Homo sapiens: one gene and its partners. The protein of the gene in region 1 purifies or fractionates together with the protein of each later gene. This does not show direct contact. Each region holds a gene or a part of one and is shown on either strand. Other genes may lie near its edges. The genes, in order: TCL1B, NDE1, ARFGEF1 and ACAD11.

The links.
Region 2: the proteins of TCL1B (region 1) and NDE1 purify together in Homo sapiens (affinity purification with mass spectrometry; 3 studies listed by BioGRID and IntAct, with this or other methods). This does not show direct contact.
Region 3: the proteins of TCL1B (region 1) and ARFGEF1 purify together in Homo sapiens (affinity purification with mass spectrometry; 3 studies listed by BioGRID and IntAct, with this or other methods). This does not show direct contact.
Region 4: the proteins of TCL1B (region 1) and ACAD11 purify together in Homo sapiens (affinity purification with mass spectrometry; 3 studies listed by BioGRID and IntAct, with this or other methods). This does not show direct contact.

The regions. Positions count from the first base shown.
Region 1 is NC_000014.9:95,682,479-95,689,452, forward strand, and holds the start of TCL1B (T-cell leukemia/lymphoma protein 1B), read left to right. Parts: upstream 1-3,947; 5' UTR 3,948-3,989; coding exon 3,990-4,151; intron 4,152-6,974. UniProt on the Homo sapiens protein: Enhances the phosphorylation and activation of AKT1 and AKT2.
Region 2 is NC_000016.10:15,667,222-15,674,249, forward strand, and holds part of NDE1 (nuclear distribution protein nudE homolog 1), read left to right. Parts: intron 1-64; coding exon 65-218; intron 219-5,187; exon of another isoform or gene 5,188-5,550; intron 5,551-7,028. UniProt on the Homo sapiens protein: Required for centrosome duplication and formation and function of the mitotic spindle. Essential for the development of the cerebral cortex.
Region 3 is NC_000008.11:67,221,777-67,228,804, reverse strand, and holds part of ARFGEF1 (brefeldin A-inhibited guanine nucleotide-exchange protein 1), read left to right. Parts: intron 1-540; coding exon 541-581; intron 582-672; coding exon 673-842; intron 843-1,206; coding exon 1,207-1,358; intron 1,359-1,495; coding exon 1,496-1,668; intron 1,669-2,621; coding exon 2,622-2,782; intron 2,783-3,771; coding exon 3,772-3,902; exon of another isoform or gene 3,903-4,116; intron 4,117-7,028. UniProt on the Homo sapiens protein: Promotes guanine-nucleotide exchange on ARF1 and ARF3. Promotes the activation of ARF1/ARF3 through replacement of GDP with GTP. Involved in vesicular trafficking.
Region 4 is NC_000003.12:132,558,809-132,565,836, forward strand, and holds part of ACAD11 (acyl-CoA dehydrogenase family member 11), read right to left. Parts: intron 2,410-7,028; coding exon 2,293-2,409; intron 1,135-2,292; coding exon 1,025-1,134; intron 278-1,024; coding exon 163-277; 3' UTR 1-162. UniProt on the Homo sapiens protein: Acyl-CoA dehydrogenase, that exhibits maximal activity towards saturated C22-CoA.

The DNA of each region.
Region 1 (6,974 bases):
AAGGAAACAAAACAAGAACAGAGCATAGAGAGCACGGTACACTTGTTTAAAGGGTCTGACAATGTGTAATTGGAGTCACTGAAAGAGAGGGAAAGGGAGGAAAAGAAAGGATGAGACGGGAATAGTTGAAGATACAATGGCTAAGACATTTCCTCAAATAGTGGATAAACTATTAGAGTTAAGTCAATTTATCTAGGTCTTAGATATAGTGTCAATGCACACAAACCAGTTGCATTTTTTTATAACAGCAACAAACATAATACATAATTTGAAATGACATTTAAAATAGCATCAATCAAATACTTAAGAGTTAATTTAATGAAATCAGAGAGAACAGTTAAAGACAACCCAAAATATGGAAGGATACACTATGCAATTGCTTCGGATCGTAAGTCTTAATATGTTGGAGATGTTAATTCTCTTCAAATATACCTATAGATTCAACACAATCCCAATCAATCTTAGCAGGCTTTTGGAGGTGGGGAGGATTAACAAGCTGATTTTAAAATGCATATGGATATGTAAAGGGAAGAGAATAGCTATATTAGGGTTCTCCAGAGAAACAGAATCTTACAATAAGATATAAAGACCTATTTTAAAGCTATAGTAATTAGCAATGTGGTATCAACACAAGGAGAGACAAACAGACTAATGGAATAGAAAAGTGTCCAGAAACAGACTCATACATAAATGTTCCCAGATTTATGACAGAAGTGATAATACCGTACAGTAGACAAAGCATAGTCTTTTAAATAATTGGCATTAATTGGATATCAACATGGAAAAATTAATCTAAATAAAATCTTTAGAAGAAAATAGTGTACATAAGCAAAACTTTCCTAAACCCTCATTCTTCAGTTCCGTGGTTGGGTTGACTTTCTTTTACCACTTTGCAAGTTTGCTCTGCTCACTGTCTGAAATAAGCAGAGCTGGAACTTGGATGTTCTTGTTTTTGTTATTATCTGCACAATCCCCATCCAGTCTTTTCTCTAGTAGTCATGATCTACTTGATACTAAGCCACTCTTTGGTTTTATCATTAGTTCTAACATTAAGTGCATACTTATGTCACTCCTTGTCTCAAACACTCATTGCTCATCATTCAAAACCAGCTGCTGGGACTGGCGTGTTTGATGCTTACAATGGAGCATCAATACCACCCCTGCCCCCACCACCACCACATTCTTATTCTTTATCATATGAGCTTGGATAATCCTCATTATTCCTGATCTCCAGACACACCCTGAATTACCTCTCCTCCAGGTCTACTCATGCTGCTTACTCGGTGGGACAACTTTGCCAGTTCCATCTAAACCATGCCCTGTCTAGGCTGTCTGCCTTTGGCATCTTGTCTGCCCTGCCATTTTGGCCCAGTACCTAGGAGGAGCTGAACAGAAATGTGCAGAGGTATCAGTGACTCTTACCCAGCCTTCCAAGCCCTGCACAGCGCCTCCTTGTTTGTGGTCTGGAATCCTTCCGGCAAGTGGGTGTCCAGCCTCAACGTCCCCAGGGCTTGGGGCTTGTGAAGGGCTCCCTCTGCTGGAGGAGGAGAGCATTGGGCCCAGGCATGAGTGCACCATCAGTACCAGGCAATCCTGGGAGCAATTCTGGAGAGATCAAAGTGGTTCTCAAAGACATTGGTGACACCTACCCCGGAGAGTGAATCCTTCAGGTCACAGGTACCAGAGATGGACAACTTGGCCAGAAGACATAGCCTTATCTCACTTATCTCAGACATGACATGGACAAAGACCAGCTGAAGGACCAGGAACCAAACTGTTGTCACCTGCAGCTCCGTGGCTTTTTTCATACCAGGTCCAAGGGTTGAGGGATGGGAGACCTGGCCAAAGAGGGTGATCGGTGAAGCAATCTATTTTCCACCTTGAGGCTAACTGGTAGTTATTTCTTTCTGCCTATGGAGACCTCTGCTTACCTTCTGACCACCCACTCATGGCAAGGTGTTCTCAGTCTCCATCTTCAGACCCCACCACCATTTCTACAGTAGCCACTGTGGATCTCCCTACTCCAGGTTCTGCCTCTTCCATGTAATGAGCCAAACTTGGCCAAGGCAGTCAACAAGCAGCATGCATGTTAGAGCCAGGAACAGCTGGGTCCATATCCTTCCTCTGCTACCCACTTCATTCAGGTTGCTAAGCCACTCAAGCCTCTGATACTTCATCTATGAAATGGGGGTGACGGTCTCTAGTTTATGGAGTTGTTGGGAGGTGTTAGTGAGATACCCTATGAAAAATGCCTGACATGGCATAGGGGCTCCCCACATATTAGGCAACCTTTACCTCCAACCCCACTGACAGCCACACACCTGCCCATCAGGGAGTGAGGTTGAGAATATCAAAATATATATTTGCAACAGAAAATGATAGAGATAAATAGCAATTGCATTGGGGTTACAAGGGTAGGAATGATGGATTCTGCCTGGGAGAGGGAACTAGTCTGAGAACATAACTATTGACCAGGGTATTTCAAGTATTCACTATGTGTCAGGCTTTAACACTATACACACAGCCTCATCTGATCCTCAGAGGAGTCCCATAGGGTAGGTACCTACAGCAAACAGGCTTCAGGGGGGCCCAGGAGACCAGGGGTCCCCATGATCCCTGCCTCCTGGTATTCATAACCTTGAGTAAGGATAGGACCTACCCCTGACCAATGGAATATGGCAAAGGTGACACACGTACGTGATTCCATGTATGGATCACATTATATGAGACTGTGATGTCCCTTGTCTTCCTGGCCCACTCCATTCCCACCCCAAGTGTTGGTTCCTTGGAAAAACACTGGGGATGGAGGTGGAATTGCTGTGAAAACAAGACTCAGTCCTCCACAGAAGCTGCCCAGGGAGTTCTTCAAAAGTGGTTATCCTACCTGCCATTTACACTGGATCAGGACTGTCCAGAAATCATTTTCACATCTCCCCAGCAGAATGGCATCATCTCAATACTAATCTTCACTTGAACTAGAAGAATCATGCTTGTGGTTTTCAAAAGGAAAAGGTTCCTATTCATGGTGCATTTAGAAGCAGCCCAGGGTGCTTATAGAACGGACCTGCTTCTTGCTATGTTCTTGAGCTTCTGAGGCCTCTTGACAAAGTCGAGCAAGTAAGACGACCAGGCCAAGTGGGCACTCTGGGCCCCATGGCCAAGGATGGGCTGGCCAGGTGGCCACGTGGCCTCCGGTGGCCTTGTTTCTGTGGGCTTTATCTGATCCTGAGCTCAGATGCTGATAGTGCACTGGCTTATTTTCTAAGGAGAGGGAGCTTGATTTGTGCAGGATGCGCCTTCACCAGATACCTCCAGGGGCAAGAGTCCACTGAGGTTACAGCGCCCCCCGCCCCCCATGCCTCTAAGCTCTAAGCTCAGAGAAGGGTCCCTGACACAGAGTCCTGTTAAAGGAATGGCCACAGGGATAGGAGAGACCAGGGTCGTGCATGCCAGCTCAGGATCTGGGGCAGGATGGTTGGCAGGGGGTCGTGGGGAGCAAAGGAGGGGAATCACCTGACAGAAAATTGGGCAGGGGTGCTCAGGGAGGAGGCTGCGGAGGGACTGGGACCAGTGGAAGGGAGGTGGAATAGGTCTTAGGAGCCAAATTCCTTGCAGAGGCCTGGGGTGAAGCCTGGGCAGCTCTATCCCCGGGAGCCGCCCTTTTGCCTCCAGCAGCTGCCGGTCCAGCCACAGCCCCTCCAGGAGACCCAGGCCGGGTTCCTAACTCCGCTGCTCTTTGGCCTCGTCCCTGCCTAGCCCCTGCTGCAGGTTGCTTTTTTCCCCCCTCCTCCTCCTCCCTCCTCCCTCCTCCCTCCTCCCCCTTCCTCCTCCTCCCCCTCCTCCCCCGACTGGCCCCGCCCCCACTGCCGGCCCCGCCCCCACTGCCGGCCCGGGCCCCACCCACGCCGGAGCTGCTCCATTTAAGGAGATTGCGCAGCTGGAAAGCTACACGTGTGAGCCTAGAGGCGGGTCCCGGTTGCAGACTTGCCATGGCCTCCGAAGCTTCTGTGCGTCTAGGGGTGCCCCCTGGCCGTCTGTGGATCCAGAGGCCTGGCATCTACGAAGATGAGGAGGGGAGAACCTGGGTGACTGTGGTCGTGCGGTTCAATCCCTCGCGTAGGGAATGGGCCAGGGCCTCCCAGGGCAGCAGAGTGAGTCCTGGGCACGAGGGGAGGCTGTGGGGAGGGCTGCGCACTGACCCCTGCCCGTGTGGGACCGCGGTGGGGGTCAGAGGGGGCCGTTCTCACCCGCACTGGAAAACTCACTTCTGTGCAGGTCTAGGAGCGCAGCAATGTCCATGCCCAGCCCTGGCCCCAGGAACACCCCCCGTAAAGGGACCACAGGCACAAGCTTATCCACATGAGATAATGTGGTCCTGCGTGGTGAAGCCGAGGCTAAGGTAGCTCAGGGCTTAGTGCCATTCCCAGTGCCTGCTGGGAAGGCCCACAAATGGGGCAGCTATTGAGCTGGGCTTTGTGGGATGAGTAGGAGTTCTCCAGGTCTAGAAAGGAGGCAGGAGTAGTATAAGCAAAAGCATTGCAGCCTGGAGGCACCAGGTGGGCCAACAGGATGAACATGACATTGGTGTCAGATTACTGATCTGCAAAATGAGAATAATATACCTCTGTGGCAAGCTAGTCACAGACATGCTCACATACATGGCTCACCGCCTGAATGGCCTGGGGAAGCATTTGACTGATAACAGATTCTGGAAATTAATTCAGGAGGCTTGGGTGGAGTCCTAGATTCTTTACTTTTCAAAAGCTCCCCAGGTGATAATGATAATGACTCAGGAAACGGCTGTAGATGAGGGCTTTAGATCACAGCCAGTCTTTGAGGGATGAAGTAAATACAGTAGCGTTTCTGGTGTGGGTGGCGGTGGGGAATTGATTCCAGGACCGACTGTGGATGCTCAAGTCCCTGATAGAAAATGACCTGGGTAGTAATTACATATAACCTCAGCGCATCCTCTACTATATTTGAAATCAGATTACTAATAACACCTAATGCTACACCTACACATCACTTCAAGCTCTGCTTTTGGGAACTTTGTGGAATTTCTTTTTTTCCCAAAATATTTTTAATCTGAGGTTAGTCGAATTCATGGGTGCAGTATCCATGGAAATGGGGGGCTGGCTGTACCTTAGTGTAATGTGGTAAAAGCATATCCGGATATTTAAAATGCCATTTAGGGCTGGGCGCGGTGGCTCACGCCTGTAATCCCAGCACTTTGGGAGGCCGAGATGGGCTTATCACGAGATCAGGAGATCGAGACCATCCTAGCCAACATGGGGAAACCCCGTCTCTACTAAAAATACAAAAAATTAGCCGGGCGTGGTGGTGGACGCCTGTAGTCCCAGCTACTCGGGAGGCTGAGGCAGGAGAATGGCGTGAACCCGGGAGGCGAAGCTTGTAGTGAGCCGAGATCGCACCACTGCACTCCAGCCTGGGTGACAGAGTGAGACTCCGTCCCAAAAAAAAAAAAAAAAAATGCCGTTTAGGTCTTCGTAAACAATTCACTGCCTGTTTGTTTGTTTTTTGAGAAAGTCTTGCTCTGTTGCGGCTGGAGTGCACTGGTGTGATGTTGGCTCACTGCAACCTCCACCTCCCAGGCTCAAGTGATTCTCATGCCTCAGCCTCCCGAGTAGCTTGGATTACAGGCGATTTTTTTTTACAGTTAATTTTTTTTGTTATTTTCAGGAGAGACAAAGTTTAATCATGTGGGCCAGGCTGGTTTTGAACTCCTGACCTCAAGTGATCTGCCCACCTTGGCCTCCCAAAGTGCTGGGATTACAGGTGAGCCACCTCGCCCAGCCAGTTCACTGACACTTTAAACAATATAACACATTTCCTAAAAAAAGTTCAAATAGGTTATTTCAAAAAATGTTGGTAGAGAACATGGAAAGGCTTTTCTGTACATACACTAAATAAAGCATGCAAAAATTGTGGAGCAAATATTTTAAGTTTTTCAAAAGCCTGAAAAAGTGTTAATGGAGGGCACTGTAAAATGGTGCAGCCACTATGGAAAACAGGATGAGGATTTCTCAAAGAAAGAATTACGGCATAATCCAGCAATGCCGCTTCTGGATATATACCCACAAGACTCTGAAGCCGGAACTTAAGCATGTATTCATACATCCATGTTCACAGCAGTATCATTCATACTAGCCAAAAGGTGGTGGCAGCCCCAGTGTCCATTGATAGATGAATGGGTAAACAACACAAACCATGAAGTATTCACCCTTAAAAGTCAGACACACGGATGAAACTTGGAGCCATTATACTAAATGAAATATGCCAGTCACGGAAGGACAGATTCTCTTGTATGAGGTACTCAGAGTGGTCTCATTCATAAAGTGGAATGGTAGCTGCCAGGGGCTGGAGGGAGTCGAGGATGGGAAGTTAATGTTAGTAACAGGTACGGAGTCTCAGTTTGGGAAGATAAAAAGTTCTGGAGGTGGATAGTGCCGACGGTTCCACATGTCAATGCACTTAATGCCACCAAACTGTACTCTTAAAAACAGTTGGCCGGGTGCGGTGGCTCACGCCTGTAATCCCAGCACTTTGGGGGGCCGAGGCGGGCGGATCACAAGGTCAGGAGATCGAGACCATCCTGGCTAACACGGTGAAACCCCGTCTCTACTAAAAATACAAAAAAATTAGCCGGGTGCGGTGGCAGGCGTCTGTAGTCCCAGCTACTCGGGGGGCTGAGGCAGGAGAATGGCTTGAACCTGGGAGGCAGAGCTTGCAGTGAGCTGAGATCCAGCCACTGCACTCCAGCCTGGGCGACAGAGCAAGACTCCGTCTCAAACAAAACAAAGCAAAACAAAAAAAACAGTTAAGATTTTTTTTTTTTTTAAATGATTCAGTGGAAATAGAATGGATTCTTCAAATAACTTAGCCACGGGTGGGATAAGGGACCTACTTAGTAAGTATTTTTTCCCCTTCTTTCTTAAAAATAGATCGATGTCTTA
Region 2 (7,028 bases), on another chromosome or scaffold:
GGTGATAGAGCGAGACTCTGTCTTCAAAAATATTACTACGTGATGATTAACAATTTTGCTGTAGGGCAGAAAATACGCAAGAGGAACTCCGAGAATTCCAGGAGGGAAGCCGAGAATATGAAGCTGAATTGGAGACGCAGCTGCAACAAATTGAAACCAGGAACAGAGACCTCCTGTCCGAAAATAACCGCCTTCGCATGGAGCTGGAAACCATCAAGGTGAGGGGCTGAGAGGAAGTGTGCTCAGGTGTAGACAGGCGTCCAACACAGGCATGGCATGCTTGGCTGGAAGAAGGAACCCTGCAATGAGGGACTCCAGACCCCAGGCCCATGCTCATCTCTGGAAGGGCCTGTGCGGCAGACGTGATCTTTGAACTCTTTGTGCCTCTAGTGGGTGGTGCTTTTTGTTTTGTTTTTTTTTTTTTTTTGAGATGGAGTTTCACTCTTGTTGCCCAGGCTGGAGGGCAGTGGCGCGATCTTGGCTCACTGCAACCTCCACCTCCCAGGTTCAAGTAATTCTCCTGCCTCAGCCTCCTGAGTAGCTGGGATTATAGGCGCCTGCTACCACGCCTGGCTAATTTTTTTTGTATTTGTAGTAGAGACGGGGTTTTATGTTGGCCAGGCTGGTCTCGAACTCCTGACCTCGGGATCCATGATGGGTGGAGCTTTGAGAAGCAAGTCACACACATGTTCCCGTGGACTTTCTTGGTTGTGTACACTGATTTTATAGGGCACATGGCAGGGAGACTTTTTTTTTTTTTTGAAACAGGGTCTTGCTCTGTTGCCCAGACTGGAGTACAGTGGCTGGATTACAGCTCACTGCACCCTGGACGTCTCAGGTTTAAGCAGTCCTCTCACCTGGGCCGGGCGAGGTGGTGCATACCTGTAATCCCAGCACTTTGGGAGGCTGAGGTGGGCAGATCACGAGGTCAAGAGATTGAGACCATCCTGGCCAACATGATGAAACCCTGTCTCTACTAAAATTACAAATATTAGCTGGGCGTGGTGGTACACGCCTATAGTCCCAGCTTACTTGGGAGGCTGAGGCAGGAGAATCACTTGATGGTTGGAGGCTGTAGTGAGCTGAGATTGTGCCACTGCACTCCAGCCTGGCAACAGAGCGAGACTCCGTCTCAAAAAAAACCAAAGTCCTTCCACCTGAACCTCGGGAGTAGCTGAGACTACAGGCATGCGGCACCATGCCTGGTTAGTTTTTGTATTTTTTATAGAGACAGGGTTTCGCTGTGTTGCCCAGGCTGGTCTTGAACTCCTGGACGCGAGCAGTCCTCCTGCCTTGGCCTCCCAAATTGCTGGGATTATAGGCATGAGCCACCACCTGGCCAGGGAGACATTTTTAGGGTATGGAGGTGTTGCTAGAGTAATATCATCAGGTCCAATATTGTAGCCCTTAGCTACATTTGGCTGTTGAAATTTAATGAATTAAAATAAAAACTTAATTCCTCAGTCACAGTAGCCACATTTCAAGTGCTTAGGAGCCACGTGTGGCCAGTGAGTTTCCTTAGTGGACAGAGGGGCTGCAGACCATTTCCTTCATTACCAAAAGGTGTGTTGCACTCTGCCAGTTCAGAGCAGGTTTCTCGACCTGGCTGCTGTTGACATTGGAGCCCGGATCATCCTCCGTTGGGAGGGACTGAGGTTTGCTTTGTGGGTTTTTTGTTTGTTTGTTTTGTATTTTTGAGATGGAGTCTTGCTCTGTTGCCCAGGCTGGAGTGCAGTAGCGCGATCTCGGCTCACTGCAAGCTCCGCCTCCCAGGTTCACACCATTCTCCTGCCTCAGCCTCCCGAGTAGCTAGGACTACAGGCGCCTGCCACCACGCCTGGCTAAATTTTTTGTATTTTTAGTAGAAACGGGGTTTCACCGTGTTAGCTAGGATGGTCTTGATCTCCTGACCTCAGGATCCGCCTGCCTCAGCCTCCCAAAGTGCTGGGAATACAGGCGTGAGCCACTGTGCCCAGCCTGTTTTTTTTTTGAGATGGAGTCTTGCTCTGTTGCCCAGGCTGGAGTGCAGTGGCACAATCTCACCTCACTGCAACCTCCGCCTCCCAGGTTCAAGTGATTGTCCCGCCTCAGCCTCTTGAGTAGCTGGGATTACAGGCACCCTCCACCACGCCTGGCTAATTTTTTTTTTTTTTTTTTTTGAGACGCAGTCTCACTCTGTTGCCAGGCTGGAGTGCAGTGGCGTAATCCCGGCTCACTGCAACCTCCACCTCCTGGGTTCAAGTGATTCTCCTGCCTCAGCCTCCTGAGTAGCTGAGATTACAGGCACACACCGCCATGCCTGGCTAATTTTTGTATTTTTAGTAGAGATGGGGTTTCACCATGTTTTCCAGGATGGTCTTGATCTCTTGACAGTGTGATCTACCCGCCTTAGCCTCCCAAAGTGCTGGGATTACAGGTGTGAGCCACCACGCCCGGCTAATTTTTGTATTTTTAGCAAGGACGAGGTTTCACCATGTTGGCCAGGCTGGTCTCGAACTCCTGAGCTCAGGTGATCCGCCCGCCTCAGCCTCCCAAAGTGCTGGGATTACAAGCATGAGTCACCCCGCCTGACCACACTGTGGGATGTTTGGCAGCATCCCTGGCCTCCACCCTCTAGATGCCAGTAGCATTCCCCGCACCTCCAAGGTGGTGAAAACCAAAAGCACCTCTAGACATAGCCAGGTATCTGGAGACCCAGTGCTCTGCAAGGTAAAAACCATCCCTTCTGTACATGCTGTAGGGCTCAGCAAGGGATCACTAAGTCAACACCGTGCCCCAGAGACTGGCTCTCAGCCTTAGCTGCCAGCCAGCATCACTAGGCCAGCTTCATAAACATCCGACAGGCCTGAACCCTCTCTCCCCATCCCCATCTCCCCGCCTTGCTCTGAGATTCCATTTCTCAGTAAGTCTGGGTGGGGCCCTGGCATGTCTGTGTGGTTTTCTTTTTCTCATTAAACTCCCAATGTACATTTTGATGAGCTGCTTCATGGAAGAGTCAAAACTGTGTGTGCCCAGGGCTAGGTATGATGGACGGTGAAAGGGGAAGTGCTGGTTGCCTTCTTTGGGAAGACAAACCTAATGCCATGAAGCAGTTGGGGACGTGAAGCTCAGTCACAGAACTCTGATGTGGGGGCCTTTCAAGAGAAAAAGGACTGGCTGGGTGCGGTGGCTCATGCCTGTTATCCCAGCACTTCAGGAGGCCGAGGTGGGCAGATCACCTGAGGTTGGGAGTTTGAGACCAGCCTCACCAACATGACAAAACCCTGTCTCTACTAAAACTACAAAATTAGCTGGGTGTTGTTGTATGTGCCTGTAATCCCAGCTACTTGGGAGGCTGAGGCAGGAGAATCACTTGAACCCGGGAGGCGGAGGTTGCAGTGAGCCGAGATTGCACCATTGCACTCTAGCTTGGGCAACAAGAGCGAAACTCTGTCTCAAAAAAAAAAAAAAAGAAAGAAAAAGAAAGGACTGCATGGGTTGAGGGAGGCTGTGTGGAGGGTGTTTGTAGGTGTATGTGTTGCTGACACTTGGTGCTTGGGGAGATGGGGCTGAAGGAGAGTTGATCTGTACCCATCACAGACGTGGACAAGAATGGGTGTCGGGTGGACCTTGGCAAGCCCAGCTTTACTAATGTATAGGAAAGGGTGTGGGACCAACAAATGGATTGGGGGTTTGGGGCAGGGCGGAGGAGAGGTCCCAGACACGTTGAAGGTGGTCATTGAAGCTGAAGCTTTCTGTTGGAGACCACAGAGTGCAGCTGGCCGTCTGCAGATCCATCTGCCCCATAGGTGTTGTTTGATCGCCTTCAGGGGTTTTTGTTCAGCATTTCCCCATGAACGTTTTCCAGCATATAAGGCTGAAAGAATTTCCAGTGAATACCTGTGTATCCACCACCACCTAGGCTCTACCAATAATATTTCCCCTACTTACTTGCCTTTTATTATATATATTCCCCCATCCATCAAAATTTGTAAAGCTTCCTGTAAAAAGATGGATTTCTGGCCAGGCATGGTGGTTCATACTTGTAATCCCAGCCCTTTGAGAGGCTGAGGAGGGAGAATTGCTTGAGACCAGGAGTTCAAGGCCAGCCTGGGCAACATAGCGAGACTCTGTCTCTACAAAAAAATAAAAATAAAAAATTCATTGGACATGGTAGTGCACACCTGTAGTCTAAGCTACTCAAGAGGCTGAGGCAGGAGCATTGCTTGAGCCCAGGAGGTTGAGGCTGCAGTGAGCTATGATTGTACCATTGCACTCCATCCTGGGTGACAGAGCAAAAGTTAAAAAATAAAAAACCTGAGTAGTGGTTGTTTAGAACACACATTGTTGAGTTTCCCCCAATCCCCATATCCGTGACACGGAGACCTTAGTGTCATCTGCCTCTCCCTGTACTTGGCCCACTTCACCCATTTGTTAACAGCTGAACACCTGCTACACACAATGAGCAATGATTATCGTTCTTTTTGTTGTTGTTGTTTTTGCTGTTGGAGACAGAGTCTCCCCCTGTCACCCAGGCTGGAGTGCAGTGGTGTGATCTCAGCTCACTGCAACCTCTGACTTCCAGGCTTAAGTGATCCTCCCACCTCAGCCTCCCAAGTAGCTGAGATTACAGGCACCTGCCACACCACGCCTGGCTAATTTTTGTTATTTTTTGTAGAGACGGGTTCATGTGCCCATGCTAGTCTGGGACTCCTGAGCTCAAGTGATCCGCCTGCCTCGGCCTCTCAAAGTGCTGGGATTACAGGTGTGAGCCACTGCGCCTGGCTGATTATAGTTCCTAAATTGAAGGGGACTCTGGGTTGAAAAGCTGGGTAGGAGGAAGATTAGTGGTATGAACTGCAGTTTGGAGAGGATAACAGGCCCTCCATGGATCCTGAGTAAAATATCAAGAGAATTACTCAGTAATTCTCTGCTTCAAGACTGAGCTCTTGGGCCTGGCGTGGTGGCTGATGCCTGTAATGCCAGCACTTTGGGAGACCGAGGCGGGCGGATCATGAGGTCAAGAGATTGAGACTGTCCTCGCTAACATGGTGAAACCCCGTCTCTACTAAAAATAAAAAAATTAGCTGGGCATGGTGGCGCACACCTGTAGTCCCAGCTACTCGGGGGCTGAGGCAGGAGAATTGCTTGAACCTAGGAGGTGGAGGTTGCAGTGAGCTGAGATTGCGCCACTGTACTGCAGCCACATGTCAGATGCAGGAGACTCAGAGCACACAGCACAGTGAAGAAACAGGGTACCTTGGAATAACGAGGACCCTGCCACCAGCAAGTATTTGTCAGTCACCTAAGAGAAATATATTCAGCTGGGCCGGACTTCTTAACAACTGGCTTATTCATCACGGGTTGAATGAAAAAGCCTTTAAGGGACCAAACAGAGCATCTATTGATGCCCCCATCAGCTGACAGCTTATTCGAATTAGCCCCAAATGGCAGCACAACATTTCAGCAACAGGTTTTCATGTCCACAGGTTCCGAGGAGATCTCTCAATCGCCAGTGCAGTCGGTGGAGCCCACTCGCTGCGTCCTCCTGGAGCCTGCGTTTGAATTTAGGTTAATGACTTAAGATCCTGTTTTATTTGGAGATGTTCCCAAATAAAGGGTGTGAGGCGATGAGAGCCACGCCTGGGAACAGGGCCTGGTCTGCCTCTACTTGCTGGGTGCAGATACTTCTCTGCTTACAGCCAGGAAATGGGGAGGGTGCTGCGGGCGGCAGCAGGGATGTGGTCCGCCCTCCTCATCCTTCCAACGCTGTAAATCATCTGTTTGTTCTTTCTTTGGAGTCTTCTTGCACAATGGCTCTCGCCACGCCTCTCTGGCCTAGGCACCATTACATCACCCTGGGTGCATCCGGACTTTCTAGCAACGGCTTTGTTTACTTGATTGAGTAAAGAGAAGTTGGCCTTTTTTAACTTTTAAATTAGACCTTGCGCCTTTCTTGTGGGAAGTGTTTTCTCTTATGTTTGTAGAATCTAGGATGGGTGTTTTGTGTTTTCGGTTTTGATTTTTTTTTGAGATGGGGTCTCTGTCACCCAAGCTGGAGTGCAGGGGCACAATCTTGGCTCACTGCAACCTCCGCCTCCCGGGCTCAAGCGATTCCCCTGCCTCCCGGGTAGCTGGGACCATAGGCACTTGCCACCACACCCAGCTATTTTTTGTATTTTTGGTAGAGACGGGGGTTTCACCGTGTTGGCCAGGCTGTTCTCAAACTCCTGACCTCAAGTGATCTGCCCGCCTTGGCCTCCCAAGTAGCTGGAACTACAGCCGTGCACCACTATGCCGGGCTAATTTTTGTATTTTGGTTTCGCCATGTTGCCCCAGGCTGGTGATTTTTTTTTTTTTTTTAAGCGTTGGCCTGGGCTAGAGTGCAGTGGCATGATCATAGTTTACTGGAGCCTCAACCTCCTGGCCTCAAGCAGTCCTCCCACCTCAGCCTCCCCCATAGCTAGGACTGCAGGTGCATGCCACCACGCCTGGCTGTTCTTAAATTTTCTGTAGAGATGGAGTCTTCCTATGTTGCCTAGGCTAATATGCCTCTGCCACCTGAGGTGCTGGGATTGCGGCATGAGGCACCGCACCTGGCTCTGGGTGTTTGGTGAAGGAAAGTAATTTGGAAGCAGAGCAGGAATAGAATCGAGAGAGCACGGGAACGGGCAGGTGATCTGGATTGAGATGGTTTAGGGCTGGTTAGCATAATTGCTTAAGGACACCTGCTCAGGAGGCTGGGGTTTGGTCTTGGCCCAGTCATTTGCTACTGGTTGATTCTGGGCTAGTTAAGTAATTGAGTCTCAGTGTTCATGTCTCTGAAGTGGAATTAAACGAGACAACATAGGAAGTGTACTTAGCCTGGAGGCCAGCACAGAATAAGTATGTAATGGATGTTATTGCTGCAGCTGGCAACAGGGAATCATTGAGAAGTGCGCTGGACTGTTTCTTTGGTAATTAACAAGATCTCCCTCTCTGTCTCTCTCCTCTCCTTTTCTCTCCCTTTCCCTTCCTCCATCTTCTCCCTCCCTTCTGTCTTAGTTTTT
Region 3 (7,028 bases), on another chromosome or scaffold:
CTTAACTCCAAACATTTGAATGCCCTAAGGAAAGTGGTTTGGCCAATTCTTGGGTAAACTGAGACTATTTGCAAGGTTATATTAAGTCACTTTTAGTGTAAATGAACTTTCTAATCAAATATACTTTACTGGTAAAAATACGTCAAATTTTTCATTTTAAGAACTTGCTTAATGCTAGACAATAATCAGGAAAGAATCTGTAGTGTGCCAATTATTAGTTTTACAAATTAATATTTTTCTTATTCTTAGAATCTCATATCTATCCGGGGTTTGTAAATCTGATAAAATTACAGCAGTATATACTTACCCTAATAATAATATTGAATGTAAACTGGTTCACATGGAGTAGAGGTGGAGGGGAGGGAGAAACATCCAGACTACACTTGTTACTAAACTAAATGATGAAAAATACTCATTTGAATACCCAATTTTTTGTTCCCTTAAAACATAAAAATAGCTAGTACCCCATGCCACATACTTTTCAATTGGAATAAGAACAGTAACTTATAAATTTTTTAAATTGTGTTTTATTTTCCCTAGAATATTCACAGGATCTACAAGGCTAGATGGAAATGCCATTGGTAAGTATGGGCATTTATTCTACTTCGGAACTGGCTTGGGGCTAAAATAACTTTAATGTTGAGCTAAAAAAAAAATGTATTTATATTACAGTGGATTTTGTCCGTTGGCTCTGTGCTGTGTCTATGGATGAATTACTTTCCACGACACACCCAAGAATGTTTAGTCTACAAAAAATAGTAGAAATATCATATTACAACATGGGAAGAATAAGATTACAGTGGTCTCGAATTTGGGAAGTTATTGGAGATCATTTTAATAAGGTATTTGAATAACTATGGTGTTTGTTTACATTTGTAGTATATTTTTTGTTTAGAATGTCCTTGTAATCAAATTGAGCCTTTTTCCCTTCCAAGCAATTATTTATTACTTTTTAATATTAAATTAGAAAACCCTGTGAATGGTGTTTTTCTTTTTAGAAATGATTGCTCTGGGCTTTAAGAATTTGATTTAAAATATCTGTTTTTCTTGTTGAGAAATAGTTTTAGCATACTTAATGCCTTTATGGAAAATCTTAGGATTTACCTATCTATGCTATTCTATACTTTTTCTAAAACAAAAAATAAAGAATTGTAGATTTTTACTGCTGATATTAATTAGCATCGTTTATTTCTGTCGCCATTACAGGTTGGGTGTAATCCTAATGAAGATGTAGCTATTTTTGCAGTAGACTCCTTGAGGCAGTTGTCAATGAAGTTCTTAGAGAAAGGGGAGCTTGCTAACTTCAGATTCCAGAAGGATTTCTTAAGACCTTTTGAACATATAATGAAACGGAACAGGTACTATATTTGTTGAATTGCTTAATAGAAGGAAAATCTTGTTGTTTTCCACAGCAGGGAGAAAAACAGAAGAAAGGGGGAAAAACTGATGAGTTTTATCGGTTTGCATATCCAAGCAATTATATTAATATTTTTAGGTCTCCAACAATTCGAGATATGGTTGTACGGTGTATAGCACAGATGGTTAATTCTCAAGCTGCTAACATTCGATCTGGATGGAAGAACATTTTCTCTGTATTTCATCTAGCTGCATCTGATCAAGATGAAAGCATAGTGGAACTTGCATTCCAAACAACCGGGCACATTGTCAGTGAGTATTCTCTTAGCTGTGTTCAAGTAAAAGGAAAAAAAAAAAGCAACCTTAACGTGTTCAGAAGATGATTCAAGTAACAATAAGATTATGGCCTTTAAGTTTACCAAGCTTTGTCTACAGAACCAGAGTAAATAAAAACAATTAAATTACTATTATAGTTAACATTTATTGAGTATTTACCATATGGCAAATACTGTGTGCACTTTTCACGTAATTTCTTTAATCTTCACAGTTAAACATTATTGTCCATCCCTTTTTTCAAAATAGATTAGGAAACTCAGCCCCAGAAAGGTTAAGCAGTCTATGTAAGGTCACAGAACTAGTGATGGAGATGGTCTTGAGACCCATGGAGTATTAAAGCAAAGCCTTTATTTTTGACCAGTAAGTACATTGCACAGCCTTCTTCAAGGAGGAGTCCCCTTAAGTTCAAGGGGGACTGACTGAAATACTAAGATTATAAGTTAAGCCTATATGGAAGATGACAATGATGACCATCAACATCAAGAATCATGGCATCATCATAGCTATCATTTATTGCGTGCTTGCTTAAGTATTACACTAAGCACTTCACTTATATTATTTTACGTAGTGCTTACAGCTATCTGTGTATATTATTATTATTTCCATTTTATATCAAGAAACCGAGATACAGAGAGGTTAAGTAATTTTGTATATTCATTCAACCAAAGTTGAATCAGTACCTACCGTGTACCAGTCACTGTATTAGGTGCTATGTTTATAATGTAAACAAAACAGACAAGTTTTACTATTCTCACCACTCAGGGCAGTCAGTTAAGTGGTAAAGATAGTCTTGAACTTCGTATCTGTTGGATGTCAGAACCTGTAACAACCTTTAAGAGGAAGTGCATTACATCTAGATGTTGGTGTATTTTTGGTACAGCTAAGAATAATTGAAAAATTATAGTAATATATATTTTTCTCTATTTTAGCCCTTGTATTTGAAAAACACTTTCCAGCGACCATTGATTCTTTCCAGGATGCAGTGAAGTGTTTGTCTGAATTTGCGTGCAATGCAGCTTTCCCAGACACAAGTATGGAAGCAATTCGACTTATTCGCCATTGTGCAAAATATGTGTCTGATAGACCTCAGGTATAGCGTCATTTAGTAAACAAAATTTTGCAGAGTATTCTTTCCAATTTGAAATCTTAAGTTTGTTTGGGAATTGAGGGTATATGAAGCATTTATTTTTCAGTAATTTGAAAAATAATCTGAGCAGCCTGATTCCAAGTTAGGATGGTTAGTGATTATAACTAACCATTATTGAAAGTGTCAGGTATTTTTCTGAGTGTTTTTCATTAACTTGTATTAACTTGTTTAATCTTCTAATGGCTTTATGGGGTAGATAGTGTTATAGCCCCATACAGACAAAGAAACTGAGGCACAGAGAAATTTTAAAATGTGCCCATAGTTTCAGGGCTAGTAAAGTAGAACTAGGGTTTGAGCCCCAGCCTGTGTTTCTAACCATTCCCTACAGTGCATCTTGTCTGTCTGTGCTGTGTAATACTGAAGCTGACTGACTATGGATGAGAATAGGCTTAAGCTCTAAAGTAAAAGGTTGAATTGAAAATCTAGCTGCCATATTTAACTTGTATATTTGAATCTATCTTTGTAACTGTCATAAGAGAAAGTGATGTATCGTAGATTTGGTAATAAGATTTTATTCCGTACTACCATGGACCGATCAGGTGCTTGGTACTTTTTAGATACGTCAACTCATTTCACCTTCATACTTCACCAGTGTGGTTAATGTGGCTGTCTGGTATCATAACCATTTAAGTGATAAAAATGGAAACCTGAATTAACCTGGCTAATAATGCAGAAAGCTGGTGACAGTTGAAAGTGAAGCTAACTTTTGGATTCTAGTCCAGAGCTCTTTATAGGCAGTTATGTTTTGCCTATTTCAGTGGCACATATACTAAAATTGTAGGCAGTTATAGTGTCCATTTTTTATAAATTATTTTTTATTAAATTGCTCACTGGTTATTTGTGAAGCATTTAAATTATTTTTTGAGAAGTTAGTATACTGAATGTATGGGTGTTATGTTTTGCCTTTAATAACCCTACCTTTTTTCTTGAAGGCTTTCAAGGAATACACAAGCGATGATATGAACGTAGCACCTGAAGACAGGGTGTGGGTGAGAGGATGGTTCCCAATTCTCTTTGAGTTATCCTGTATCATCAATAGATGCAAATTAGATGTAAGAACCAGGTAACAATCTATATTTGTAATTAAAATTTTGGATTTATTTTGACTTTAATCAAATTAACTCTTCTTTATAAACACAATCTCACAGTTAAAGACCATAAAATCAAGTGTTTTGTCAAATATATTAATTATTAGGTATATTTTAAAATATGTTAATATGATTTAAAAATATTAACTAGAGCAAAATAAAAATGGAAATACTACATTATTTTTAAAATATTTGATTATAGCCTCCATTTGATTTTAGCTTCTAAGTTAATTTAATCCTTTAAACATTCCGTCTTTTCATATATTTGTTTCCAATAATAAGTTGAAGTTAGTGGCAAAATTTATTTTATTTCCTGATGAATGATAGAAGAATTTTTAACTGCACATCCTTGCTGGGTTTTAGGTGAAGAACCATTTCTTTTTGTAACCTGGTCAGTAACATAGTTTGGAATAATATAGAGCTATTCAAATAGAACTCTTTCAAAAGTATATTGCCAATAAAAGATCATTATGAACATATAGTCAATCTGTAAAGGAACTATTATGGGTATTATGTAACTGGCCAAATGCTAACACACTGTTCTTAGGTCACGGCTCACATGATTCCCATAGTAGTTTTTTTACCCTGTACTTTGCCACATTGAAATGGCCAGCTTGTGTGTCCTAATATCTGTCAACCTCTAAACCCACCGTGAGTTCAATTTTATGGTAAACAAAATCTTTTAGGAATCTTTCCATCTTATTTGGAAGAATCTTCTGTTATTTGGATGTGTAACTTTATCGAATTTTTTGAATTTCTAAAGGTAGCACAGAATGAATCTCTCTTTTCTCACCTTATGCCAGAACCACCCCCATCCCCCACCAAGGTTAAATTTGACTTATATCCCAAGAAATTTTTCATTTTTATAGTATTATTTGTTACAACAGAAATTCGTATGAAATAGATAATCAAAATAGGACTTAACCCTTAGGGATTTTAATTATGAGAGCACTATAGAAAAACATTTTATTTTATATTTAGACATGGTGGATTGTTTATCAGTGGACCTGTTAGGAACTTGTTAAAATTCAAGATAGCCCCATTTCAGCTGTCCACCTGCCTCAGTGGAGCGGCTGACATATCATGACTAGCAGGTCATGAAAACTCAGCACCCTCTCCCCTCACCCTTTATTTATTTGTAGAAGTCTGTTTGATGGAGGATCCACCTGCTTTCTTAGCCTTCTGTTGCTTGGCACTGTGATACCTTATTTCTCACCATATTCCATGTTCAGATTATGGGTAGATTCCAGTTGTTAAAGAGGTTGTGTGTGTTCTAGTTAGTAAAGGAGAGAGAAAAGATCAGTAAACTTTGTTCAGTGATGGCCTTTGATTTTCCTACCTCATCCCAGGATATGTATGGGTTGCTATTTAGCTTCCATCTTAAAATGTGGGCCGGATGCCATGGCTCACATCTGTAATCCCAGCACTTTGGGATGTCAAGGTGGGAGGATTGTTTGAAACCAACCTAGGCAACATAGTGAGACCCCATCTCTTTGAACAAAAAGTTAACTAGGCATGGTGGTCATGCCTCTAGTTCCTGCTGCTCATGAGGCTGAGGCGGGATTGCCTAAGCACAGGAGGTTGGGGCTATGGTGAGCCCTGATCACACCACTGTACTCCAGCCTAGGCAACAAATTGAGACTCTCTGTCTTTAACAACAACAAATAGTGCAGCACTATAATTGGTATAACACTGTGTAGAAAGAATTTCTTGTGTGCATTCTTACTTAATTCTTCCAAAATTCTCTAGATTTGGGGATAAATACCGAAAATTAAAGTCCCAAATATAGTCAGGCATCATTTAATGACAGGAGTATGTTCTCTGCAATGCATTAGTAGGCAATTTCAGCATTGTGTGAACATCATAGCATGTACTTACACAAATCTAGATGGCATAGCCTATTGCTCCTTGGGTACAACCTGCACAGCATGTTACTGTACTGTAGGCAGCTGTTAATACGGTGGTGTTTGTGTATCTAAACATATCTAAACAGGCTGGGTGCAGTGGCTCACGCCTGTAATCTCAGCATTTTGGGAGGCCAAGGTGGGCAGATCACCTGATGTCAGGAGTTTGAGACCAGCCTGGCCAACCTGGTGAAACCCCATCTCTACTAAAAATACAAAAATTTGGCCAGGCATGGTGGCCATACCTATAATCCCAGCACTTTGGGAGGCCCAGGTGGGCGGATCATCTGAGGTCAGGAGTTCAAGACCATCCTGGACAACGTGGTGAAACCCCTTCTCTACTAAAAATACAAAAATTAGCGAGGCGTGGTGGTGCGCACCTGTAATCGCAGCTACTTAGGAGGCTGAGGCAGGAGAATCGCTTGAACCTGGGAGGTAGAGGTTGCAGTGAGCTGAGAGTGCCACTCTACTCCAGCCCAGGCAACAGAGTGAGACTCTGTCTCAAAATAAAAATAAAAATTAAAAAATACAAATACAAAAATTAGCCGGGTGTGGTGGTGCACACCTGTAATCCCAGCTACTTGGGAAGGTGAGGCATGAGAATTGTTTGAACCCAGGAGGCGGAGGTTGCAGTGAGCCAAGATGGCACCACTGCACTCCAGCCAGGGTGACAGTATAAGACTCTGTCTCAAAAAAAAAAAAAATACATACATACATACATACATACATACATACATACATACATATACATATATATATATGTGTGTGTATATATATATATATATATATATGTGTATATATATATATATGCATGGAAAAGGTACAGTAAAAACATGGCATAAAAGATAAAACCTGTAGGCTGGGCATGCATGGTGGCTCACGCCTGTAATCCCAGCACTTTGGGAGGCCAAGGTGGGCGGATCACGAGGAAAGGAGATCGAGACCATCCTGGCTAACACAGTGAAACCCCGTCTCTACTAAAAATACCAAAAATTAGCCGGGCGTGGTGGTGGGCACCTGTAGTCCCAGCTACTTGGGAGGCTGAGGCAGGAAAATGGCTTGAACCTGGGAGGTGGAGCTTGCAGTGAGCAGAGATCATGCCACTGCACTCCAGCCTGGGCGACAGAGCAAGACTCCATCTCAAAAAAAAAAGAAAGAAAAAAAAAAGCAACAACAAAAACCCATATAGGGCACTTA
Region 4 (7,028 bases), on another chromosome or scaffold:
AATAAAACCCACTGATCAAAATAGATGCTATAATCTTTACCACAAATGAATAATTAACCCTGTGCTCAAACTGCTACAAAAATATGAGATTCAAATGTTGGAGCCAATGAAGTTTGTATAAAGGAGAGTTTCTGCCAGTGGGATGTGGCAGTGCCACCCTCCTTATATCTTGGCTGTCAGTCTTTTGGCTTGGTCCCGCAGCTCCATTGTTGCGATTGCTGAAAGATGAACTTCGTCAGGTCCATCTGCTAAACGCAAAACTCGGGTTATAGCATACCTGAAAAAGCAAAAGAATCAGGGAACACAGGGAGTTATGGAAGAGGAACATGATACTTTGACATCAGTCACTCTGATTGTCAACCAAGACTATATTAATTCTTAAATTCCACCAAGGTCAGGGTAAGAAAAAGGGTACCAGGAAAATAAGCTAAAGGGCTTCTGCAATGCCATCTTAAAGTTTCCAACTTGGGAAAGTTAAATGCCAAAGTACAGTGGAGTTCATCTCATTCTTGGTTTGCTACAGTTTACTACATGTTGCTAGAACTTAGAACAGGCAGTGACTGGTATGATACTATATATTTAGTTCTTTCTTAAGGTTTAAAATTGATGAAGGATGAGACTCTATCTCCATTGTGATAGAGAAGGTGACACTGTAATTATGTGTGGAGATGGACAGATGGGGAATGGAGAATGTTCCTTTCTGCCTCCCAGTCATCAGGATCTATATATTAGATAGTCACTGACATGTCCTGCTACAAATTCAGCGAAACCCCATGCTGTATCTACAGCCCAGGAATCCTCAGTGGGACCCCTCAGTGTAAAAATTAACATAATGGAATGAAATGATTATTGTAATAATAAGAGCAACTATTTCTTGGTGTTGAGCTCTATATTAATGTATATCACTTCATTTAGCCTTCAATTACACTGAAAATAAACATAAGCAATTAATGTCAAGGCATCTGTAGATTTTTTACCTCCACGCCTATCAAACGTAGATGATTCTTAAATGACATCTACTCACATGTTAGCCAGAGGGTAATCCTGGGAAACACCAGCACCTCCGCACACCTGGATGGCCCAGTCAACGATTTTGCTGACAGCCCGTGGGGCAGCCACTTTGATCATTGCAATCTATATAAGCAAAATATGAAAAGAATGCTTCTTTCTTAGACTATACACAATGTGGCAAAACTGGGAAATGAAACAAGGAAACTTTCCCACATCCAAGTCACCACTAAAACAGGATCTTTAACAAAAGCCAACAAAGAGATCCTGCTGCAATGCCATATTTCAGTCAATACAGACCCTCTGGAAAGAGACACCTCTTCCAAATCACATTTTATCCATTTATTTCTAACTTGTCTTGTTTCCAAAAGGATTTCAGGCAGCTGATAAATCACACTCATCACCTTAGGGATCATAAAAATAGTCCAAGGGTCTTTGCGCTATTAATCAGGTTTCTTTTAGCAGTTTTATGGGCTTTTAGAATTAAATGATTATGTCTTTATTTCATATAATCCAGAAACATAAGAAAGCAAAGGATGAGAGGTCTCTTTCATGAAACATTTACTATGTAGCAGTATCATGCTGTGCATTTTTTGTTTTGTTATTTGAGACAGGCTCTCACTCTGTCACCCAGAATAGAGTGGAGTGGCTATTCCCAGGTGTGATCATAGCTCACTACTGCTGCCTCAGAATCCTGGGCTCAAGCAATCCCCCTGCCTCAGCCTCCCTGGGACTACAGGTACAAGTTACCATGTCGGCTAATTTTTTTTTTAAGAGACAGGGTCTCACTATGTTGCCCAGGCTGGTCTCGAATCCCTGGCCTCAAACAATTCTCCCACCTCCACTTCCCAAGTAGCTTGGATTACAGGCGAGAGCCACTGTACGTGGCTTCTGCACATTCTATGTACATCATCTTGGTTACTCTTCACAACAACCCTAGGCCTTAGGCAGAAAAGTTAAGTACTTTGCCCGTGATCACAAGGCTAGAAGAAAGTGGCAGAGTGGGTGCAGTTCCAGGGCTGTGTAAAGCCTATGATTTCCCCCATTCCTTGTTGCTGTATCTTAAGAATGCTGAAGATATTCTCCCTCCTGAAAATCATTCCCTAAAGCACTTGCTAGGAGACTAGCAAGTGACAGGCATTTATAATTTATAACCCAAAATCACATGGGGGCTTCCAATATTCTGAGTGCCATCAAGATGCCATGAAAACTGAAATGTCCAACAGGTGAGAGAACTGGAGAAGGCTCAGCAGTTGGTGGTCTGAGGGGAGAAGGTAGCCTCACCTCTTTCTTAGCGCCAGCACTGCCCAGAGTGTCCATGCTGTGAGCAGCTTTCAGAGTCAACAAGCGGATCTTCTCAATGGCAATGCGGCTTTCAGCAATCCAGTGAGCCACAACCTCCTATAGGGGAGGAAAAGGCAGCAAAAGAAGGAGGAGCTAAGCTGGTATCTGATGTCCACGTGTAACACAGTCTTATAGTTTGGTGAAAACACTCTCTAAGCCAGAGATTGTTCACAAGCTTTACTCTATGTATTTTTAAATGGAAGAGTTAATTCATTTGATATACACCAGCCTAACCACATACTTGTGGAATGCTTACAGTTAAAATTGAAATATTTTAGAAAGAAATTTTATTTTCCCAGAAAAATCATTTATTTTGGATATCTTAATGTCTAAGGTAAAGATGGCTGAACTGAGCAACTGCCTTACCGCCAAACCACTCAAAGGCCCTCCTGAATGCTAATTGCCTGCTGTCATGGAAACTTGGCTAAATGTATGGTAGTGAAGCTGCTTACAGGTAAACTAGAAAATTCTCAGCACAATTTCAGTGTGGGGACAGTTCAGCAGCAATTTGCTGTGTTGTTATTGTTATTTATTCATTAAAAATGACCTTTTCTTTAGTAGACAGTTGAATTATAATACATGTATAGATTGGAATAACCACAGTCAAGAACACAGAACAGTTCCATCTCCCACAGAACTCCCTGGTGCTGCCCCTTTTTAGTCACAGGCTCCTCTCACTCCTAACTTCTGGCAACCATTGATAGGTTCTCCATCACTATAGTTTTGCCTTTTCCAGAATGTCATGTAAATAGAATCATATAGCATGTATTGTTTTGAGACCAACTTCTTTCATTCAGTTTAATGCCTTTGAGTTTCATCCAAATTGTTCTGTGTATTGACTGTTCATTCCTTTTTATTGCTGAGTAGTATTCCATTGTAAGTATGTATCAGTTGGTTTATCCATTTGCCTGTTGAAGGACATTTCGGTTGTTGCCAGTTTTTAAATTTTATTTATTTATTTTTTGAGACAGACTGGCTCTGTCGCCCAGGCTGGAGTGCAGTGGCGCCATCTCAGATCACTGCAACCTCCACCTTCTGGGTTCAAGCGATTCTCCTGCCTCAGCCTCTGAGTAGCTGGGACTACAGGCGCCCATCACCATGCCTGGCTAATTTTTGTATTTTTTAGTAGAGACAGGGTTTCACCATATTGGCCAGGCTGGTCTTGAACTCCTGACCTTGTGATCTGCCTGCCTCGGCCTCCCAAAGTGCTGGGATTACAGGCGTGAGCCATCGCGAGATTATTCATAGAGTTTCTGTGTATTTGTATACGGGTTTTTGTGTGGACATGTTTTCATTTTTTAAAGCAGATAGCAGGAGTAGAATTGTTGGGTCAGTGGTAAATGTTTATTAAGAAGCTGACAGTTTTCTAGAGTGGTTGTACATTTTGCATTCCTACTAGCAGTGTATGAGAGTTCCAGTTGCTCCTCAAACCATCAGCACTTAGTATCATATTTTATTTTAGTCATTTTAAGTGTGCAGAGATATCATGGTTTTAATTTGCATTTCTGTAATGGCTACTGCTGTTGATCCCCTTCAATGTACTGATTTGCCATCTCTATACCTCTTTGGTGATATGTCTGTTAAAGTCTTTTGTCCATTTTTTAATTGGGTTGTTTTCTTACTATTTGATTTAGAGAGTCCTTCATATATTCAGGACGCTAGTCATTTGCCACATGAGAAATCTGTCAATTCTTTCTTTTATGAGCCTTGCTTTTGGTGCATGTTTAGGAACATTTTACCTAATCCCAGAAAATGATTTTTCCACTATGTTTTCTTCTAAAAGTTTACAGCTTTACCTTTTACATTTAGATCTATGATCCATTTAGAGTTAAAATTTTGTGTGAGGTGTGTGGTTTAGATCAAGGGTCCCTCTTTTGCCTATCTATGTCCAATTGCTGCAACACCATTTACTGTAAAGATGTAACCTTTTCCATTGAACTGCCTTTGCACCTATGTAAAAAATTAATTGGCCTATATTTCTATGAATCTATTCCTGGACTCTCTCTTCTGCTCCAAAGATCTACATGCCTTTTGCTCACTGATTACTGTAGTTTAGAGTAAGTCTTAAGATTAGGTAGTGTGATTCACTGAGCTTTCTTCTTTTTCAAATTGTTTTGGCTACTTTAGTGTTTTTGTATTTCCATATAAATTTTAGGATCAGTCTGTCTTTATCTACAAAATTGTCCTTTTGGGACTGTGATTGGAACTGCCTTAAGTCTGCAGATCAATTTGAGGATGGTTAACATCTTTAATCTGTTAGTCTTCTAATCTACATATTTACTTAGGTCTCCTTTGATTTATTATATCACTTTTTTCTACTTTTTAGTGCATGTGGATATTGTACGTGTTTTGGTAGAGTAGTACTTAAAAAAAACTGTTGTAAATGGTATTTTAAAACTTTCAGTTCCCCCATTGTTCATTGCTTGTATATAAAAATAAAATTGTTACGTACTGACCTTGTATCCTGTGACTTTGCTAAACTCACTTATTAGTTCTGGGAGGGTTGTTTCGTTTTGTTTGATACGTTCCTTAGGATTTTCTATACAATCACATTGTCATCTACAAGCAGGCCCAGTTTTACTTCTTTTTTCCCCCAACTACATGCACTTTTTTTCTCTTGTTTTACTGCACTGCCTAGGAATTCTTCTATGATCATAAATTGGAATAGTGAGGGTGAACATTCTTGCCTCATTTCCAGTTTTGGGGGAAAAGCATTTAGTCTTTCATCATTAAGTATGATGTTAGATTTTTAAAAATACTCTCTATAAAGTTGAGTAAATTCCTTTGTATTCCCAGTTTGCTGAAAGTTTCTATCATAAACAGATGCTGAATTTTGTCAAATGCCAAAGCATCAATTGATATGATCATGTGATTTTTTTAATGTTCATGCAGTTTTTGCTGTTAGTTTGGCAGATTATAATAATTTATTTTTAATTATCGAGTTATAGACATGAATCAGGCTTGCATTTGTGGGATAAACCCTACTTGATTATGCTGTATGATTATTTTTACATACTGCCAGATTCTATTCGGTAATACTTTGCTGGTGGTTTTTGCATCTATATTGGTCTATGGTTTGTTCTTGTCTGGTTTTGGATTAGGATGATTCTGGCCTCATAAAATGAGTTGACAAGTGTTTCCTCCTTCTCTATTTCTGGAATAGATATGTAAAATTGGTGTTACTTCTTCTCTAACTGTTTAGTAGAATTTACCAGTAATACCATCTGGGCCTGAAGATTTCTTTTTTCAGCAGCTTTTTAACTTTGAATTCAACTTCTAACAATAGTTGTAGAACTATTCAGGTTATCTACTTCATCTTCGGTGAGTTTTGATAGTTCATGGGATTTGAGGAATTGGTCTACTTCATCTAAATTGTTAACTTTATGTGCTTTGTACACATACTAGAGCGTGTGGGTCCCAAGTCCTAGATCTGGAATGGAGGAGACTCTACTTCAGCCTTGGCTCCAGACCCCATTCTCCAATCCATGTTTTCCCAGAGAGCTCTGCATTGTGGCTTACAGACAGCCTACACAGACTAAGAAAATAAGTATGTCTGATATCCTCTGCTTCTAACAAGGATGGAATCGATATATTTTTCTCTATTCCTTCTGTTAAGTACAACTAATAACCCTGGGCATTATCTATAAAACAAACATAAGAAGACTCTGAAAGGTAGAGAAAAGGCAGACTATTTAGGGACTTCAGGTCCAAAAGAATAACCTAGTGGTGTGTTTCCTAGGTTTTCTTTTTGCCTCATATATCTCAGCTGCTGAGGTTCTTCCCGGCAGCTGAAGAATCTAGTAACCTGGAAATGTCAGTGAGCACAGACCAAAACAAAACAAAAACATAAAGCACCCCAACAAAAGTATAATCTCTCTAACCAAAGGATCAGGAAAGATGCAGCCTAGCAAGCCAAAAATCTTTTAGAGAATAACCACTTTACTCCAGCCAAACACCACAGAAAAAACATTGGCCCCCACCACTCCTCACACCAGCAAAGGCAGGATGGGGAGCGTAGGCTTCCACCCTGGCAAGCACTGTAATGAGGTGCCCCAGCTCCCCTGCCAGGAAGGTATCAGACAGTGCCAAGTAAAAACCTGAGGCTTTCCTCCCCACTGGCCAGTAATAAGTCCCCCCAACCCATCTTATGGGTTGTTAGTGCAGTCCAAATGGGATGCCTGGACTTTCATCCCACCTGGCAGTATGAGGGCATCATCCTCTTCAGGTACTGATGGAAGCTGGGAGGGGAACCTGGACTTCTCTCTCTGCCTAGCAGTAATGAGGTGATGCCACTCCTTTCTCTGACAGAATGGTGTCAAAGAAAGCCAAGAAGGTTTAAAAAGGTCCAGAGTCTCACAGTATAAAACTGTTCAGGTTTCAATTTTATAAATCACCCATAATACCAAAAACCTGGAACAATTCAAAATTAATTTTTAAAAAATAAAGAGACACCGTGATATAGTTTGGATGCTTGTCTCCTCCAAATCGCATATTGAAACATGAAGGTGGAACCTAGTGGGAGGGTCATGGGGGAATATCCCTCATAAATGGTTTTATGCCTTCTCTTCAGTAATGAGTTCACATGAGATCTGATTGTTTAAAAGAGTCTGGGATGTCCCCCCTTATCTCTCGTTCCCTCTGTTGCCACGTGATGTGCTGGCTCCCCCTTTACCTTC